Linked DNA regions of Homo sapiens: region 1 is linked to region 2. Evidence: fine-mapped expression QTL. A gene starts in region 2. The other region holds a variant in brackets. All regions are shown on one strand. Distances are between the middles of the regions.

What was found. PIP is the estimated chance that this variant, and not a neighbour inherited with it, causes the effect.
Region 1: its variant is the best candidate, but not a certain one, in a credible set for the expression of SMARCA4 in whole blood (TOPMed, PIP 0.88).

The regions. Positions count from the first base shown.
Region 1 is chr19:11,008,383-11,018,982 of GRCh38, reverse strand. SMARCA4 (SWI/SNF related BAF chromatin remodeling complex subunit ATPase 4) reads right to left here. Exons shown (of 35, transcript NM_003072.5): 15 at 8,452-8,602; 16 at 5,871-6,034; 17 at 1-26. It also overlaps the pseudogene RN7SL192P. Among named protein-coding and RNA genes, the nearest start is that of SMARCA4, 53 kb to the right of the region's middle. RefSeq lists an enhancer at 8,633-9,133. The variant G/T (reference allele first, on the strand shown) is at 6,037.
Region 2 is chr19:10,955,679-10,964,557 of GRCh38, reverse strand. It overlaps SMARCA4 (SWI/SNF related BAF chromatin remodeling complex subunit ATPase 4), which reads right to left and starts at 3,528. Exons shown (of 35, transcript NM_003072.5): 1 at 3,384-3,528. RefSeq lists an enhancer at 514-643 and silencers at 3,161-3,220, 3,271-3,330, 3,381-3,800.

The sequences.
Region 1 (10,600 bases), 54 kb before region 2:
ACTCGTACGCCCAGTTGGACAGCGTTCTGATGGAACAAGGAAATGAGAGTCAAGTGCCGGTCTCTCATCAATGGCTCACTGTGCAAACCCATAGCCACTGGCTGTCAGGGGCGAGGCCAACATGGCCACAGCCCTCCGAGTGGGCAGAGAAACTGTGTTTAGGGCAGCTGAGGGAGGGAGGGAGGAAGAGAGACTGGCGAGGACGTGAAGGGCTCTGCCTCAGAGGACAGAAGGGAGGCCACTGGGAAAAGAGGGCAAGGCCCTTTAGAGTGAGAAGTAGGGACACAGAGATGTGATGGGGGACAGAAACAATGCTGCCAGGGCTGGGGAAGCCTGGACCTGCTGCCGGGAAAATGCAGCTTCAGAGCACAGGCTTCACGCCCAGAGCCAGGCTAGCAACAGTGCTGTGGAGACCTGAGGATATAGGAGACACCAAACAGTCTTTCTGCCACCCTCCAGCCACGGAAGGTTCCTGACTGTGAGAGAGAACGAGGACAGTGAGGGGCGAGGCGGGGCCTGGCTCAGGTGGCAGGCGGGAGGACAGGGATGGGAGGGAGCGGCAACTCGTGGCTGTTCCCCTGTGGGATGACCAGGGCTGGAATGAGGGAGGACATGGGGGCAGGCAGAATGCAGTGGGGAGGGGTGAGTCACCTGAGACCGACAGCCTAGAGACTGAGGAGAGGGTGGAGGCGGTAATAAAGCTGAGTCCCAAAGGGGACGGGCTCTGGGAGGAACTCTGGGGCAGGGAGTTTTCAGTGGGGGAGGGAAGCCACTCAGAAAGTCTAGACGGGGTGGTCCGTAAAGACAGGGCTCGAAGCTGGAGTCCCAGGGACTACTCGTGGTTTGCCCCCAAGCAGCTCCACGAGGGAGGTGCTGTGTCCACCATGAACCCATCTCCAGCCCCGCTGGAAGCCACAGCCAACCAGGCGGCACAGCCAATAGACAGAAGGACGCATGGCTGTGGTGAAGGCTGGGGAGAGTTCCTGAAGAAGCGTGGGGAGCAGAGGCTCAGCAGCCTTGCGCTTCTGCTGCCTTTTGCCCTGCCCACTCTCCTAGAACTCTTTCCTGCCCACTCTCCTGCATGAGGCGAGGGAGGCAGTGCAGCCGTCCTGCAACCATGAGGTAAGGAGCCTGAGGGTTGGAGTCACCCAAGAATGACTGGGCAGAAACCTGGGGGAGGCTGGGTCCCTGATGGCATCTTGGAGCCACCGGACCTGGCCCGTAGGGCCTGACCCTGTGCTTCCGCTGACTCAGGAACAGTGAAACCTCCCTGGAGTGATGGGGACAGTCAGCGCACCAAGGGAGAAGCCGGAGGTGTGCGGAGCATCTGCACTGGGAGGGAGAAGAGCCAGGAGCAAGGGTCAGGAGGGGACTGAGGGGACAGGTCCCAGAGACAGAGGTCCAAACGGAGGCAGGACAAGCAGCTCATGGCAGGAGGCAGCAATTCCCAGTGAGAGGGCCGGCACAGCCGGATGCCCATACGCCGTAAACATTTCCTAGCGCGCGGGCCCTCTTCTGGCCTGCAGGAGCTGGCGTTCCACAGCATGGACGCTTGCCCAGGTGGGGCGCAGTGGGAAAGACTGCAGGAGCACCCACCTCACAACCTCACTGAAGTAGGGGAAGAAGGTGACCTCTATCACCCTGGAAATGGAATCTGACTGCAATCTGGAGGTCTGAACACACAAGGAACTGGCCCCAAGGCCTGCGCTCTAGTGGCTCAAGATGCTTCCCGGAGGTACCGGCTCACTACTCTGAAACTGTTGTCCACGGAAGCTGAGAATGGGCGCACACACAGGGTGGAAGTGTGAGAAGGAACCTGTGGTCCTCACTCAGAGCCGCAGACAGTGGTATGAACTCACGTTCAGCTTAACACAGAAACAGATGCCGAGGCAGAGAAGGCCTTTTAGACGATACGTGCACAAAGCATCAGCACGCGCACATGAATCTCCTAGCACTGACCACTGAGAGGGCCCCAGGAGCAATGACACCCCAGAAGCAACAGGCCCATCCAGGACCCAGGTCTTGGTTCCCAAAACCATTCTGTAAGAAGGGAAACCAGGGCTCCTTGGAGAAATGGCTGATTTGAGGGAGTGGGCGGGAAATAGACTACATGAGCCTGCAGCATCTCTTGGTGCCAAAAAGCAAGAAAGTCCTCAAAATTCACCCGATGCTGGGGGCGTGTCAAAGGACAGAAGAGCCAACTGAAAGCACTCCCAGTGGCCAAAGCTGGATGGATTTGAGCCACAAAACAAAAAAAACCCAGCCACTGGTGCGTAGCCTGGAGTACTAAATAAATATCCGTGGGTCCATACTCATATTAACAAATGACTGAATACATAGAGAAGACACAATTCTTCCAGGGAGAATTCTCCCAGGCCAAATCTGAAAAAAACTGAAGCAACAAAATAAATAATATTTGTTCACGCCCACACTGATATAATAATTACCCAAACAAGCACATGGGGGAGACGGGAAAGCTCTTCCTAACGGTGGAATTCCAATTAATTTGTAGAGAAGAGCGGACAGAAACAGGTAACCATGTATTTGGCAACTCTCATGTAATTATTTTTTCAGGCAAGACTTATCTGACGTTTGCTGCTATAGTTTGGGTATCTGGCACCTCCAAACCTCATGCTGAAGTCTGATTTCCAATGTTGGAGGTGGGGCCTGGTGGGAGGCATCTGTGTCATGGGGGCCTCCCTCGTGAACGGCCTCGTGAACCCTCGTGAACGGCCTGTACTGTACTGGGGATGGGGGATGAATGAGTTCCTGCTCTCTGAACTCTCGTGGGAGCTATGGTTAAAAGGAGCCCGGCACCCCCGCCTCCCTCGCCTCCTCCCTCCCCATGGGATCTCTACACACTGGCTCCCCTTTGCCTTCCACCAGGAGTGGAATCCGCCTGAAGCCCTCACCAGGTGCCCAGTCTTCCAGCCAGCAGAATCATGAGCCAAATAAACCTCTTTTTTTTTTTGAGAAGGCGTTTCATTCTTGTTGCCCAGGCTGGAATGCAATGGCACGATATTGGCTCACTGCAACCCCCGTCTCCCAGGTTCAAGTGATTCTCCTGTCTCAGCCTCCTGAGTGGCTGGGATTACAGGCATGCGCCACCATGCCTGGCTAATTTTTTTTTGTATTTTTGGTAGGGACAGGGTTTCACCATGTTGGTCAGGCTGGTCTCAAACTCCTGACCTCAGGTGATCCGCCTGCCTCGGCCTCCCAAAGTGCTGGGATTACAGGAGTGAGCCACCGCGCCCAGCTAAACCTCTTTTCTTTATCACCTAGTCTCAGGTATTCCTTTATGGCAACATGAAATGGAGTAGAAGAGATGCTGAAATTATTGAGGAAAGTAGGAAGAGAAATGAGATATTCACAAGTGTCGAAGTACGTTCCCACGAGACAGTTATTAACGGAAAGTGTAACTCCTAGGTTTACAGTGGGAAACCCAGCAGGCACCTTGCCCGAGACACCAAGGCCTCAACATCTCATGCCTTCCCCGCTAAGGCACATCAAGCAGGGCGTGGTGTTGCTCCACGCGATCACATCGGACAAACCCAAATTGAAGGAGAGTCTACCAAAGGTCCGATCAGGATTCAACAGCGTCAAGCTCGACCAGGACAAAGACGAAATGAGGAACTGCCACAGGCATGCCACACAGACGTGACAGTGTGGGATCCTGGACCAGAGCAAGGCCACTTGTGAGAAAACTGACAAGATTGGTAAATAAGGCCTCTGGTTTGCTATTAGTCCTACGTCCATGTTATCTTCCTGGTTTTCATAATTGTCTTGGGGTTATGAAAGAATGGGGAAGATGGGTGAAGGGTGCATAGCAATTCTTTACACTAACTCTACAATGTTTTCTAAGAATGAGGTCGCCAGGCACAGTGGCTCACTCCTGTAATCCCAGCACTTTGGGAGGCCAAGGCGGGCAGATCATGGGGTCAGGAGTTCAAGACCAGCCTAGCCAACATGGAGAAACCCTGTCTCTACTAAAAATGCAAAAAAGTTAGCCGGACATGGTGGCGCGTGCCTCTAATCCCAGCTACTCGGGAGGCTGAGGCAGGAGAATCGCTTGAACCCAGGAGGCAGAGGTTGCAGTGAACCAAGATGGCACCACTGCACTCCAGGCTGGTCAACAGTGCGAGACTCCTCAAAAAATAAAAAAAAATAAAAATAAATGAGATCATTTCAAAATGAAAAGTTTAAAAAAATTTTTTAAAGCAAAAAATTAACAACTAAGAACCAAGGCTGCAAAACAACAGCACCCTGGAGAGCGGCGTTCCAGCAGAGATGGTGATCTGAGAAGTCTGTAAGTGAAAGGAGGGAAAATCGGGAACTGCAGAGGGCGACTGCCACTGCACCCATCAGCCTCCAGGGGAAGAAGGGCAGAGGGGAGCCAGGAGGTGGGCAGAGCCGGAAGGAACAGCCTCCAGACACAGACAGGGGACAGAGCTCAGGCAGGTGCAGCAGGAACGCTGTAGCAATCTGGGTCTGACCACGAGGGGAGGTGCAGCTACCTGCAGCGCTGTGCACAAGGACGCCCTGCTCCTTCAGAGCAGTCTGTTCTACCCGCCACGTAGGAAGCAGGGAGATAGAAGAAAGAAACAGTTCCACAGTAAACCTGGGAGGGTTCTGGGGTCCTCACCTTTCCTCCAGTCCTCCCTGCAACAGTCAGGACGTCAGGCCTACCCTATGGGTGTGTGACCCATGGGGCCTGGCTGTCTTATAGGCAGAAGGGCATTTTCCCATGGGGTTGGAGCATGGGCATGCCGCTCCCCAGCCTGCCAGGAGTTGGGGGTCCGCTGCTGACTCGTGGCTGTAGTGGTCCCAATGAGTGCCTGGTTGGAGTTAGGGGCTGTGCTCTAGGGCCAGACCAAATGCTATGCTGAAGTTTGCCCAATCAGACCAGACTAACCCCCAGGCCGGTGACTGTCTGCTTGCTGGACATGTGACTTGAACTGGACCAGTAAGAGCCGGCCCTGGGGCTTTCTGGGAAAACCCTAGGCAGGTCCCCCTTTAGTGCAGGGGCTGAGCTGGGTAGAGAGATGTCGAGAGAGGTGGGCAGGGGGGCGGACTCTGTTTGCAGGGAGAAAAAGGCCGGTGGAGCCAGGCAGTGGCAAGTGAGAGCCTCTCAGGGTGTCCGGATCCCACCATGCCCAAGGACCTGGGCCATGCTGGGATGTGCCCGAGGGCTCTGGTGGCCCTTGCAGGGCACTGCACAGTGAGGAAGTAGAGACTGTTCAATGGAGCCTCAATGGCCTCACCCTACTTTTCTAGTGGGAGGTTCTTGTCTCCTGCGACTCCCCTGCATGGACTTTGCTGGTTGTGGGACTTGAAAAGGACACCAAGGACATCCCGGGAGAGGGACCCCAGGCCTCCCCAGGGGTGGAGGGGATGCACAGTCATGCCCCCACTTGATCCGGGACCCAGAGGCAGAGGCTGTGACGGGTGGAGCTGTGCACAGCCCCGAGGCTGGTGGAGCAGTCCTGACCCCCAGCAGCTCAGGATGCGACTGTACCTGGAGACAGGGCCAATACAGAGGCAATGAAGTTAAAGCAGGCCATTAGGATGCACCCTCATCCAACCTGACCCATGTCCTTCTAAGAAGAAGAGATGAGGACACAGACACGCACAGAGGAAGGACCATGTGAAGACACAGTGAGATACATGTAAGCACGTATCCCTGCAAGCAGGAAGAGAGGCCTCAGGAGGAAGCAACCTGCTACACCTTGACCCTGGACTTCTGGCCTCCAGGAAAACAAATTTCTGTAATTAAGCCACCTCGTTTGTGGTATTCTACTGCGGCAAACTTAGGAAACAAACACAGGAGCGTGTGAGCGGCGTGTGGGATGTTGCTGGCAGCGGGTACTCACGAGAGAGGCACGATGATGAGGAAGGGCCCATTGATGCGTTTGTGCTCCATGAGGTACGTGATGAGCGCGATGGTCTGGATGGTCTTCCCCAGGCCCATCTCGTCGGCCAGGATGCCGTTCAGGTTGTTGTTGTACAGGGACACCAGCCACTCCAAACCTTTGATCT[G/T]CAAGGACAGATGCGGCCACGCCAGGACTGAAGGCCGGGTCGGACACCAGAGGGTCCTCCCACTTCAGAGAGTCAAGACACCGCCAGCCACGAGTTCTGCCTAAGCCACATCCCACCCTCTACTGCCTTTACCACGGATTTTTCCTCTGAACCAAACTGATTCTTTATCGCTTAGCCTCATCCTTAGCAATAACGTCTGTGAAGCTGCAGGATGACTGTGCGAACGATGGACACGTGTGACATTTCTAATACACATCTCAACAGCTCACTCCCACCTGTTACATTGTCTGCCTGTCCATGCCCCACACAGCACACAGGAAAAACCTGCCCACACCACGGGACACTTGCACTCAGGAAACCAAGAGGGCTTCAGGGCGACTTCGTGAGGAATTCACTGCCTGAACATCATTTCAAGATTAAGAGAGGGATTTCCAAAGCCTGGGAGCTTTCTGAAATACAGGCCTTAAACAGAAGACTATTTGCAAACTGAAGATAACGTTATGAAGGAAAATTTGGAAATGTTCGTAATGGATTGAGGAAGTAAGTTCTGGCCAAGTTCTAATTCATTTTTTTTTTTTTGAGACCGAGTCTCACTCTCACCCAAGCTGGAGTGCAGTGGCCCGATCTTGGCTCACTGCAACCTCTGCCTCCCAGGTTCAAGCAATTCTGCCTCAGCCTCCCAAGTAGCTGGGATTACAGGCATGCACCACCATGCCCAGCTAATTTTTTGTATTTTCGGTAGAGACAGGGTCTCATCATGTTGGCCAGCCTGGTCTCAAACTCCTGACCTCAGGTGATCCACCCGCCTTGGTCTCCCAAAGTGCTGGCATCACAGCCATGAGCCACTGCGCCTAGCCAAGTTCTAATTATTTTAATTGCATGGGACTCTTGGAAAATTCCACTAACCATGAGCTTTGCCTTTGTTTCATTATTGTTTTATAGAGATGGGGTCTCGCTATGCCACCCAGGCTGGAGTGCAGTGGCTCTTCACAGGGACTATCTCACTACGGATCAGCACATCAGTTTTGACCTGCTCCATTTCTGACCTGGGCAGATTCGCTCCTCCTTAGGCCACCTGGTGGTGCCCCACTCCTGGAAGGTCATCATATTCATGCTGAACTTAGTACAGACACCTGATCGACATAGGGCGCTACAGCTCAGAAGTCCTGGGCTCGGGCTCTCCTCCCACCTAAGCCGCCCAACTATCTGGGACTACAGATGTGTGCTACCACCCCCAGCTAATTTTTAAAATATTTTTGTAGAGGCAGTGTCTCACTATGTTGCCCAGGCCCACTTTCAACTCCTGGGCTCATGCGATCCTCCCATCTCAGCCTCTTAAGTAGCTGGGACTATAGGTGCATGTGCAGCTTTGAATGTTGATACTAGCACAAAAGGTTTAAGAGTTGTCTTAAAGAAAGTTGGGGCTGGGTGCACTGGCTTACATCTGTAATCCCAGCACTTTGGGAGGCCAAGGTGGGCGGATCACCTGAGGTCAGGAGTTTGAGACCAGCTTGGCCGACATGGTGAAACTCTGTCTCTACTAAAAATACAAAAACTAGCCGGGCGTGATGGCACGCACTTGTAGTCCCAGCTACTCAGGAGTCTGAGGCAGGAGAATCACTTGAACCCGGGAGGCAGAGGTTGCAGTGAGCTGAGATCGCGCCATTGCACTCCAGCCTGGGCAACAGAGAGGCTCCGTTTCAAAAAAAAAAAAGAAAAGAAAAGAAACAACCAAATTGAAAACCAGAGAGAGCTGTTCTTTGGTTGGAGTTGTACTGGTTGTCTTGTGGGGCCTTGTAATGAGCTCTGGATGGCAGGCCGCATTAAGAGCATGAGCAGCTCTGTTTCGTGACTGTCCCAAGTCAGGCCCAGGTGAAGAGCTTCAGAGCCACCAACTTTTCACCCTCACACAGGACCTGCTACCTCATCCCCAGAAGAAAGAGCGGAGTCCAGGGCTGCCGGCTCCTAGATCTAAGCTCCTGACGCTCGCCGTTTCACACCACACAGAGCTCAGGTAACCTGTCCTGAGCATGCAGATGCCCAGATCTGAGCTCCGGCCCTGGTTCAGTCCTACACACGGTGCGATGCTGAGGAGGTGCTGCACCTCTCTGCTCCTCAGGTGGCCCCGTCTCCTCTGTGAGGCCACTGGAGTGCAAATCGCTCCCACTCTGCCTGGCACATCGGGCACCCAGTAGACACTGACTTTCTGCTGTTGCACGTCCTCCTGGCAGCTAACCTACCAGACCACATCTCTGCTTTACACATGGGGAAACCGAGGCTCAGAGGGGAAGAGTGCATTGCCCACAAAGAGCAAAAGGTGAACTCAGGTCTGCCTGAGGTCTGAAGCCCGCACCACCTGGGAACACCTGCACCGAGGCAGCTACGTGGCGGTGGCCTCCCCACCCCCTACCTCACCTGGTACTGTTTGAGGACACCATTGACCATAAGCGCTGACTGCTTGTCCACTCTCTCAGTGACAGCATGGGCCACGGCATAGTAGGACTGCAGGCCACGTGCAAGGGCCTGGGACACGCCATATTCATCATCGACATCTTGCTTGGCATTCCTGGGAGTGAGATGGAGGTGCCGGGTAAGGACACACATTCCTATCTGTGACAATGTGCTGGCTCCTGACACAAGCTCTGCGGAGTGGCCCTTTCTGCTGAATGACCTGTGGCCAGCACTGTAAGACACATAGAGGTGCAGCCGGACAGTGTGAGGCCAGGCAGGGCAGCCCGCACTAAGCCTGAGGGGTCCAGACTGGACTCCTGGGAGCTCTGGGTCCTGATTGCACCACCACAGTACAAGAATTCTGTCACTCTGATGGGCGTGGTGGCTCACGCCTGTAATTTCAACACTTTGGGAGGCTGAAGCAGGTGGATCACTTGAGGCCAGGAGATCAAGACCAGCCTGGCCAACATGGTGAAACCCCATCTCTACTACAAAAAACAAAAATTAGGCTGGGCACAGTGGCTTACACCTGTAATCCCAGCACTTTGGGAGGCCAAGGCATGTGGATCACCTGAGGTCAGGAATTCTAGACCAGCCTGGCCAACATGGTGAAACCCCGTCTCTACTAAAAATACAAAAATTAGCCGGGCGTGGTGGCAGGCGCCTGTAGTCCCAGCTACTTGGGAGGCTGAGGCAGGAGAATGGCATGAACCTGGGAGGCGGAGCTTGCAGAGAGCCGAGATCGTGCCACTGCACTCTAGCCTGGGCGACAGAGCAAGACTCTGTCTCAAAAAAAAAAAAAAAAAAAGTTAGCCGGGCGTGGTGGTGCATGCCTGTAACCCCAGCTACTCAGGAGGCTGAGGTAAAAGAAACACTTAAGCCCGGAGGCAGAGGCTGCAGTGAGTCAAGAGATCGAGCCACTGCACTCCAGCCTGGGCGACTGAGCAAGACTGTCTCAAAACAACAAATAGAATGCTGTCACTTGCCACAGCACAGAAAGACACTCTGCACCTAGCCAGATGCTGATCATCATAGAACCCACCCTTTCTAAGAACAATTCATGAGCCTAAAGGTGAAAAGAAACACAGACTGAACAGGTTCATACAAAACCAGAGCTGTTAAAACTTAGGCAATTTGTAATCTAATCTGAATGTTTTTCTTTTAAAAAGTAACTCTGGCCAGGTGCGGTGGCTCACGCCTGTAATCCCAGCACTTTGGGAGCTCAAAGTGGGTAGATCATGAGGTCAAGAGATCAAGACCATCCTGGCCAACATGGTGAAACCCCATCTCTACTAAAAACACAAAAATTAGCTGGACGTGGTGGCCCGCGCCTGTTGTGCCAGCTACTCAGGAGGCCGAGGCAAGAGAATCACTCGAACCCAGGAGGTGGAGGTTGCAGTGAGCCAAGATCGCACCACTGTACTCCAGCCTGGTGAAGAGCAAGACTCTATCTCAAAAAAAAAAAAAAAAAAAAAAAAAAAAAAAAAAGTGACTTTTATCCACCTACATTTTTTTTTTTTTTGAGATGGAGTCTCCCTCTGTTGCCCAGGCTAGAGTGCAGTGGCGCTATCTCAGCTCACTGCAGCCTCCTCCTCCCCATTTCAAGCGATTCTCCTGTCTCAGCCTCCCAAGTAGCTGGGACTCCAGGTGCACGCCACCACGCCCAGCTAATTTTTGTATTTTTAGTAGAGATGCGGTTTCACCAAGTTGGCCAGGCTGGTCTTGAACTCCTGACCTCAAGTGATCCACCTGCCTTGGCCTCCCAAAGTGCTGGGATTACAGGCCTGAGCCACCACGCCCAGCCCTCACTTGCTTTTTAACAGGATCTATTAATTCCTTACCATAAGCAATGAAGAGATTACTGTGTTAACTGTGATGTGTTACAGGAGCAAAAGATGACAAATATAACCTAAACGCTTGTCACCAAAGGACAGGCTACGAAAATGAGAATATAACGTGACGCAGTATGACACTGCACGCTGAGGACCAGACTGGAAGCACTCTGCACGGACACAGGATGACCTCCAAGAGGGAAGGTTCAGTGAAAATAACAAGGTGCACACCAATGTACACTGGAGATATGTATGCAAATGAAGACAAAAATATGCACATT
Region 2 (8,879 bases):
GGGTGGATCAGTTGAGGTCAGGAGTTCAAGACCAGCTTGGCCAACATGATGAAATCCCATCTCTACTAAAAATACAAAACTTAGCCAGGTGTGGTGGTGCACACCTGTGATCCCAGCTACTCAGGAGGCTGAGTCAGAAGAATCGCTTGAACCCGGGAGGCAGAGGTTGCAGTGAGACGAGATCGTGCCATTGCACTCCAGCCTGGGCAACAAGAGTAAGATTCCGTCTCAAAAAAAAAAGAAAGAAAGAAAGAAAGTTCCACCAGACATCTGCCCAAAACCCTAGTCCCTCCCATGCTCCCACCTCCCACAAACAGCCAAAACATGGAATGGTCTAAGGTTATCTCCTGGTGTTTTGAGGGTTCCCAAGGAGAAGCAAAGGTACACAAATAAATTGTAAATAAATACACATATGTTGGAATGCTCCTCACTGACAAGAAGTTTAGAGACCACTGCACTGCCCTATATCACAATTCTGATGACATCACCTCCCCTGCTCAAAAGCCTGCACGATCAACATTTACGTCTCCTAAAGGGCTGGACACAAAATGATTTTAGGTGGCCCATGCAAAACCATTTATTACTTTCCTAACTATGCATGAATTAATTTTTATTCCTTTTTTTAGACAGGGTCTCGCTTCGTCACCCAGGCTGGAGTGCAGTGGCTCAATCATGGTCCACTGCAGCCTGTACCTCCTGCCCCAGCCTCTCAAGGAGCTTGGGACTACAGGGGCATTGCACTCCAGCCCGGATGACAGAGCGAGACTCCGTCTCAAAAAAAAAAAAAAAATCAAGTGTTCACTACGCATCAGGTGCAGCAGTGTGTTAGCGGCTTCCCATGTGACCTCATTCAACCCTCACAAGAAGCCTGTGAAGTTTCGGGCATCCTCGTCCTACCTGTTTCACAAGTGGGGGGCCCTACTGCTAAGCGCCTCGCTTGAGGTTAAGCTACGATTTAGAGAGCTGGGTGTGAATTCAGGAGGTCTGATTCCAGAATGAGTACTCCTTACCACCACCCCACGCTAACCACCACCCCACACTTTGTAGGGGAGATGAGGACAACTGAGGTTCAGGAAACAATGGCTTGGAAAGTGCAAAAACTGTTCAAACAACTAACCTGTATCCCTTACAATCCACCCCCAGTCCTGCACCAAGCTTTCTTTTTCTTTTTTTTTTTTTTTTTTTTTGAGACAGTCTTACTCTGGTGCACAGGCTGGAATGCAGGGGCACAAGAATGGCTCACTGCAGCCTCCACCTCTCTGGCTCAAGCAGTCCTCCTACCTCAGCCTCCTGAGTAGTTGGGACCACCGGTGCATGCCACCACACTCGGCTAATTTTTGTATTTTTTGTAGAGATGAGGTCTCACTATGTTGCCCAGGTTAGTCTCAAACTCCCGGGTTCAAGCAATTTTCCCGCCTCAGCCTCCCCAAGTGCTGGGATTTCAGGTATGAGCCACTGCACCTGGCCCTGCACCAAGCCTTTTACACAGATGGTCACGCGATCTTCCACAGGACCCCCTCATTCAATCCACATAAGTTCGCTAAAGACCTACTATGTGTCAGGCCCAGGGTACTGTGGGGCCAGCCAGGCAGACACAACCCCAGCTCTCACGGTGCTGGGGGTGACAGCTACACCGGAAAGGACCAAGTTGATGTATGAATGTAGCTGAGGGGAACAATGGCTAGTCCGAGGTGGCCAGGGAAAGTCAAAATACAATCCTGGCGCAGTGGCTCACACATGTAGTCCTAGCACTTTGGGAGGCCGAGGTGGGTGGATCACCTTAAGTCAGGAGTTTGAGACCAGCCTGGCCAACATGGTAAAACCCCATATCTACTAAAAATACAAAAATTAGCCAGGCGTGGTGGCGGGCGCCTGTAGTCCCAGCTACTCAGGAGGCTGAGGCAGGAGAATCGCTTGAACCCAGGAGGCGGAGGTTACAGTGAGCGGAGATTGGGACTCTGAACTCCAGCCTGGGCGACAGGCAAGACTCTGCCTCAAAAACAAAATACAATCCTACACACCCTCCCTGATTTTGAGGCCCCCTCTTCCAAGCAGCCCCCGTGATCTCTGGCTACCACCGATCCCCTGCCTGTCCGCTGTGTCCCTCTCACAGTGCAGGTTCAGAGCAATAAACGATAGGCCAAGAGAGTTTGTTCCCACATTTACCACCCGCTCCCCTCCAAGACTGCAGAGGCTCCAGGATCCAACCCCCGACCATCCAACACTTAGTAGGGCCTCAAGAAGTTATCTGCTGAACAATGAGGGAGATTGGACCAGACAATTACAATAGTGCTTCCCGCTTGCGAGGAACCATTTTACAGGCTTTCACCAATTCCATTTGGGAGATTACCCCCTTTCACAAAGGAGCTTTCACAAAGGAGGAAAACTAAGAGGTTCAGAGAGGTTAAGCCACTTCCCTAAAGTGACAGTGTGCTAAGTGACTGACAGCACCAGGAATCAAGCTTGAATGCAGCCTATCAATCCAAACTGAAAACTTGCTTCAAATTCCTGCGAAGCGGCTTTTCCGCTTATTCCCTTGCTACTTTCCCCAAGGAGTCACTGACCAAAAAAAAAAAAAAAAAAAATCAAGACTGGTATCTTCAAGATCGGGACAAAACACTCGCCCAAAAGGTCCACGTTGAAAATAAAAGCCTTAATCTGAAAAACCAATTGGGAAGGAGAAAAAAGGATGCAAAAGAAAAGCAATGCTTTTACACAGCAAAGGATTTCCTCCGTGCTCCCCTACTTGCCGCCGACCCCATCCCCAACCCCAATTCGGGCAAACATTTTGAAGTCACTAACTGCAAGGCATCGGGGGAGTCCTTTACCTTTCCTTGAAAATCTGGAATGACACGTTTTTAAGACAATTTGAGGTCGGCTAGCCCAAGGGGACCGCTAATGCCCGTGTCCGGCCGACGCCGGACATATCTGGAGGTTTGGCTGAGCCCCGATCGCAGCTTCGCCAAAAACGCAACATTCGGGTCGGACCCGTTACCACGCAGCCAGAAAAGCCCCAACGCCTGCCTATTGTTGCAGCCGCTGTAATTGGGAGGGCGACTGTAGGGGTGCCGGGCGAGGGGGGCGAGCTTTGTCCGGCGACCCCGGCGAGAGCGCGCGCGGAGAGGATCGCGCGGCCTCCACGCGGCCCGGGCCCCCCACCCACCCCGCCGCTCCGCGGGGGCCGCCGCTGCCACGGCCTCGCGACACTGTGGCCTTCCCCACGCGCGCGGCTGCCGGCTGGGCTTCTTGACCCTCGGGCGCCGCCGTACCCCGGCCCCGCACAGGGCGCGCCGGCAGCCCCCTCCCCCCTCGGCGCCCCGGCTCCATTCAAACCGCCCTCCCCGGCCCCGCGCCGCGCTGCCCCCGCGGCCCGCGTTCCTTACCAGGAGCCGCCGGCGCCGTCGACTTCCCGGCGCCTCCCCCGCCCCTCCGCGCGGGGCCGGGGGCAGAATGGGCGTCTCGCTTCTCTTCACGAAACAAAGAAGCCGCCGCCGCCGCCAAACGAGGGGAAGCCTCGCGCGCGCGCCCGCCCGCCTCGGCCACCGCCCCCCCTTCACACACACGCGCGCCACCCGCGCCCCCGCTGCGCGCGCGCTCGCCGGCTCCCCTCCCCCTCAGCACCGCGGCGGCCTCTCCAGCTTCCGCCGCCTGCCCGGCCTCGTGCGCGCGCCAGCCCGCCCTTCCGCTCCCGGCGCGCGTGCGCGCCCGTCCCTGGGCGGACGGGGGTGGGCGTGGCCCGGAGGAAGCACGCGCGTCCGATGCACCGCCCCACTCGGGCCGCGATGGCCCCGCGCCTGCGCACGCTTCGCCTTCTGCACGCCTCGCGTCTTGACGCCCCGGAGCATGCGCAGAGCGGACGCCACTGCGGCGGCGGTGGCGGCGGCCGCGGTGACGATGGGGCAACTGGAGAATGGGATCCCGGTGGCCGTGGGGTCCGTGGGGAAAGGAGGTCCCTGAGGCTCGGAAATAGGAACCCTGGACCGTAGGACGGGCCGCCTGGACCAAGACCGGGCAGTGGTTTCCCGCGGGCCAAGGGCGCGCCTGGGAACCGCTTTGATCCCTGACCTGGGGCGGCGAGGCCTATTTGGGGAGGCAAGGCGGGGCCCGACCGTGGCCGCCTTCTCTGCAAAACTTCCCAAGTGCCATTAATTAGCTTAGCAAATATTTATTGATCTGCTACTGTGTCCCAGCCGCCGTGGAGCCCTCGGTCTAGTGGGGAAGGAGGACAAGAAGCAAGATTAATAAGCAAAATAGTGCAGTATGAGAGGCCGGACTTGGTGGCTCACGCCTGTAATCCAGCACTTTGGGAGGCCGAGGCGGCCGGATCACCTGAGGTCGGGAGTTAGAAACGAGCCTGACCACCATGGTGAAACCCGTCTCTATTAAAAATACAAAAATTAGCCGGGCGCGGTAGCTCATGCCTGTAATCCCAGCACTTAGGGAGGCCTAGGCTGGTGGATCATGAGGTCAGGAGATGAGACTATCCTGGCTAACACGGTGAAACCCCGTCTTTACTAAAAATACAAAAAATTAGCCGGGCGTGGTGGCACACGCCTGTAGTCACAGCTACTCGGGAGGCTGAGGCAGGAGAATCGCTTGAGCCCAGGAGGTGGAGATTGTAGTGAGCCGAGATCGTACTATTGCACTCCAGCCTGGGCAACAAGAGTGAAATTCCGTCTCAAAAAAAATAAATAGTACAGTGTGAGGTGAACACTGGGAGGATCATGGACATTTTAAATAGGGCAGCCACGGAAGTCGTCGTTGCAAAGAACACGTTTGAATGCATACAGGCTGGTGGTGAAAGAGAGAAACCTTCCTCCGAGAGTGAAGGCCCTGAGCCTCTTGGCCTCTTCTGTGTGTTTTCTTTTTTGTGTGTTTGTTTGTTTGTTTGTTTGTTTGTTTGTTTGTTTTGAGACGGAGTCTTACTCCATTGCCCAGGCTGGAGTGAGGTGGCACGATCTCAGCTCACTGCAACTTCTGCCTCCCAGATTCAAGCGATTCTCCTGCCTCAGCCTCCCGAGTAACTGGGACTACAGGCGTCCGCCACCACGCCCGGCTAATTTTTGTATTTTTAGTTGAGACAGAGTTTCACCATGTTGGCCAGGCTGGTTTTTAACTCCTGACCTCAAGTGATCCGCCCACCTCAGCCTCCCAAAGTGTTGGGATTACAGGCGTGAGCCACCTCACCTGGGTGGGTTTTTGTTTAATTGTTTGTTTTATTAGAGACAGGGTCTTGCTCTGTAACCCAGGCTGGAGTGCAATGGTGTAACCACAGCTCAGTGCAGCCTCAAACTCCTGGACTCAAGGGATCCACCTCAGCCTCCCAAATAGCTGTGACTACAGGTACATGCCACCACCACCAGCTTTTTTTTTTTTTTTTTTTTTTTGTCTGTTATGTTCTGTAGAGCTGAGGTCTGCTGTGTTACCCAAGCTGGTCTCAAACTACTGGGCTCAAGCAGTCCTCCTGGCTCAGCCTCCCAGTGCACTGGGATTACAGGCATGAGCCACCAAGCCAGGCCCCAGAAGGACCTGGGTTTAAAACACGACTCCATTTCTACTACCTGGGTGATGCATGGGTAATACCAGGCAGGTTTACCAGAGCATCTACACCTCACTTTCTTCACCTGTGAAACAAACAATAAGGCTGGGTGCGGTGGCTGACATCTGTAATCCCAGCACTTTCGGAAGCCAAGGTGGGCAGATGACCTGAGGTAAGGAGTTCGAGACCAGCCTGGCCAACATGGTGAAACCCCGTTTCTACTAAAAATACAAAAAAATTAATTAGCCAGGCATAGTGGCAGGTGCCTGTAATCACAGCTACTCGGCAGGCTGAGGCAGGAGAATTTCTTGAACCCAGGAGGTGGAGGTTACAGTGAGCCAAGATCATGTCATTGCGCTCCAGCCTGGGTGACGAGAGTAAAACTCCATCTCAAAAAAAAAAAAAAAAAAAAAAAATGCTGGGCCCAGTGGCTCACGTCTGTAATCCCAACACTTTGGGAGGCCAAGGCAGGTGGATCATGAGGTCAAGAGATTGAGACCATCCTGGCCAATGTGGTGAAACACCATCTCTACTAAAAATACAAAAATTAGCTGGCTGTGGTGGCGCGTGCCTGTAGTGCCAGCTACTCAGGAGGCTGAGGCAGAATTGCATGAACCCAGGAGGCGGAGGTTGCAGTGAGTCGAGCGTGCCACTATACTCCAGCCTGGTGACAGAGGGAGATTCCGTCTCAAAAACAAAACAAGACAAAACAAAAAAAACCCACCAGAAACAATAATGGCTCCCACTTCCACTGTTTGGTTATGAGGAATCATGACAGCAGGTAGCCCACCTGCTAGCTCTCTGATCCTCAGCTAGTGTTATTGAATAGTGCACAGTAAGTGAGCAAGTAGAAGTGGGATCTGAACTCGATTCCTCATTCATTCAAGTAGTTATTTTTTTGTTTTTTTGTTTTTGTTTTTGAGACACAGGCTTGCTGGGTCATCCAGCCTGGACTGCGGTGGCACGATCAGTACTCACTGTAGCCTCGACCTCCTGGGCTCAAGCGATCCTCCTGCCTCAGCCTCCCGAGTAGCTTGGACTACAAGGGTGGGACACCACACTCAGCTAATTTTCTTAAAATTTTTTGTAGAGACAGTCACACTATGTCGTCCAGGCTGGTTTCAAACTCCTGGGCTCAGGTGATCCTCCCACCTCAGCCTCCCAAAGTGCTGGGATTACAGGCGTGAGCCAAGGCGCCCGGCCAAATAGTATTTCTTATGCTCTCTCCAAATGCTAAGCATTGAGCTAGGAATACCCTGCAGCAATGCATGGAGGAGGCAGGGTTGCTGCCCATGGAGTGGATGGTATGACTGTTCTCTAATTGTCTTTTATGCTAATCACACTAATATGCAATAGTGTAAAGAAAAACAGGCCGGGCCAGGCGCGGTGCCTCACGCCTGTAATCCCAGCACTTGGGAGGCCGAGGCAGGCGGATCACCTGAGGTCAGGAGTTCAGGACTAGCCTGACCGACGTGGAGAAACCCTGTCTCTACTAAAAAAATACAAAATTAGCCGGGTGTGGTGGTGCATGCCTGTAATCCCAGCTACTTGGGAGGCTGAGGCAAGAGAATCGCTTGAACCCAGCGGGCAGAGGTTGCGGTGAGCTGAGATCATGCCGTTGCACTCCAGCCTGGGCAACAAGAGCGAAACTCCGTCTCAAAAAAGAAAAACAGGCCGGTTGTGGTAGCTCATGCATGCCTATAATGGCAGTACTTTGGGAGGCCCAGGCTGGCAGATCACTTGAGGACAGGCGTTCAAGACCAGCTTGGGTAACATTGTGAAACCCCATCTCTACAAAGCAATACAAAATTTGCCAGGTGTCTCAATTAAGAGCACAGTTCTTAATAATGAACTGCCCCTGGGACCTTGGCCCCATGTCTGCATTGACACCCTTGGCTTCCAGACTTTAAAAAAAAAACATCTACAGGCTGGGCGCAGTGGCTCACGCCTGTAATTCCAGCACTTTAGGAGGCCGAGGCAGGCAAATCACAAGGTCAGGAGCTCGAGACCAGGTCAATATGGTGAAACCCTGTCTCAACCAGGCACGGTGGCTCACGCCTGTAATCCCAGCACTTTCTCTGGGATCGCAAGGTCAATATGGAGTTCGAGACCTGGTCAATATGGTGAAACCCCGTCTCAGCTGGGCGCAGTGGCTCACACCTGTAATCCCAGCACTTTGGGAGGCCGAGGCGGGCAGATCACGAGGTCAGGAGATCGAGACCATCCTGGCTAACACAGTGAAACCCCGTCTCTACTAAAAATACAAAAAAATTAGCCAGGCGTAGTGGCAGGCGCCTGTAGTCCCAGCTACTCAGGAGGCTGAGGCAGGAGAATGGCGTGAACCCGGGAGGCACAGCTTGCAGTGAGCTGAGATCCCGCCACTGCACTCCAGCCTGGGCGACAGAGCGAGAGTCTGTCTCTAAAAAAAAAAAAAAAAGAGAGACCCCGTCTCTATTAAAATACAAAAATTAGCCAGGTGTGGTGTCAAGCACCTGTAGTCCCAGCTACTCGGGAGGCTGAGGTAGGAGAATCGCTTGAACCCAGGAGGCGAAGGTTGCAGTGAGCCAAGATCACACCACTGCACTCTAGCCTGGGCGACAGAGACTCCATCTCAAAAAAAAAAAAAAAAGAAGGGGAGGAGAGGGCAGGGCAGGGGAGGGGAGGGGAGAGGAGGGAACGGGAAGTGGGGGAGGGGAATCATCCCAGAGGAGAATGGATTTTTTTTTTTTTTTTTTTGGCGCAATTTCCGCTAACTGCAAGCTCCGCCTCCCAGGTTCACGCCATTCTCCTGCCTCAGCCTCCTGAGTAGCTGGGACTACAGGTGCCCGCCACCACGCCAGGCTAATTTTTTGTATTTTTAGTAGAGACGGGGTTTCACCGTGTTAGCCAGGATGGTCTCGATCTCCTGACCTCGTTATCTGCCCACCTTGGCCTCCCAAAGTGCTGGGATTACAGACATGAGCCACTGCGCCCGGCCTTCTTCTTTTTTTTTTTTTTTTTTGTTTTTTGAGACGGAGTCTTGCCCTGTCACCCAGGCTGGAGTGCAGTGGCTCAATCTTGGCTCACTGCAACCTCCACCTCCCACCTCCCAGGTTCAAGAGATTCTCCTACCTCAGCCTCCTGAGTGGCTGGGATTACAGGTGGATTCTTCTCTTTTACTCAAAGATGAGGGCTTGAAATAACAACTCACCCAAGTCCAGAACATGAAAATGTAAAATACATTGACTTCAGTTGCCACTGCAAGTTAAACACCTTTTCAGTAATATCTCCAGATCTTCCTTGGAATATGAAATCACTCATTAGTTAACAAAATGTGCATTTATTCATCAAAAATGACCTC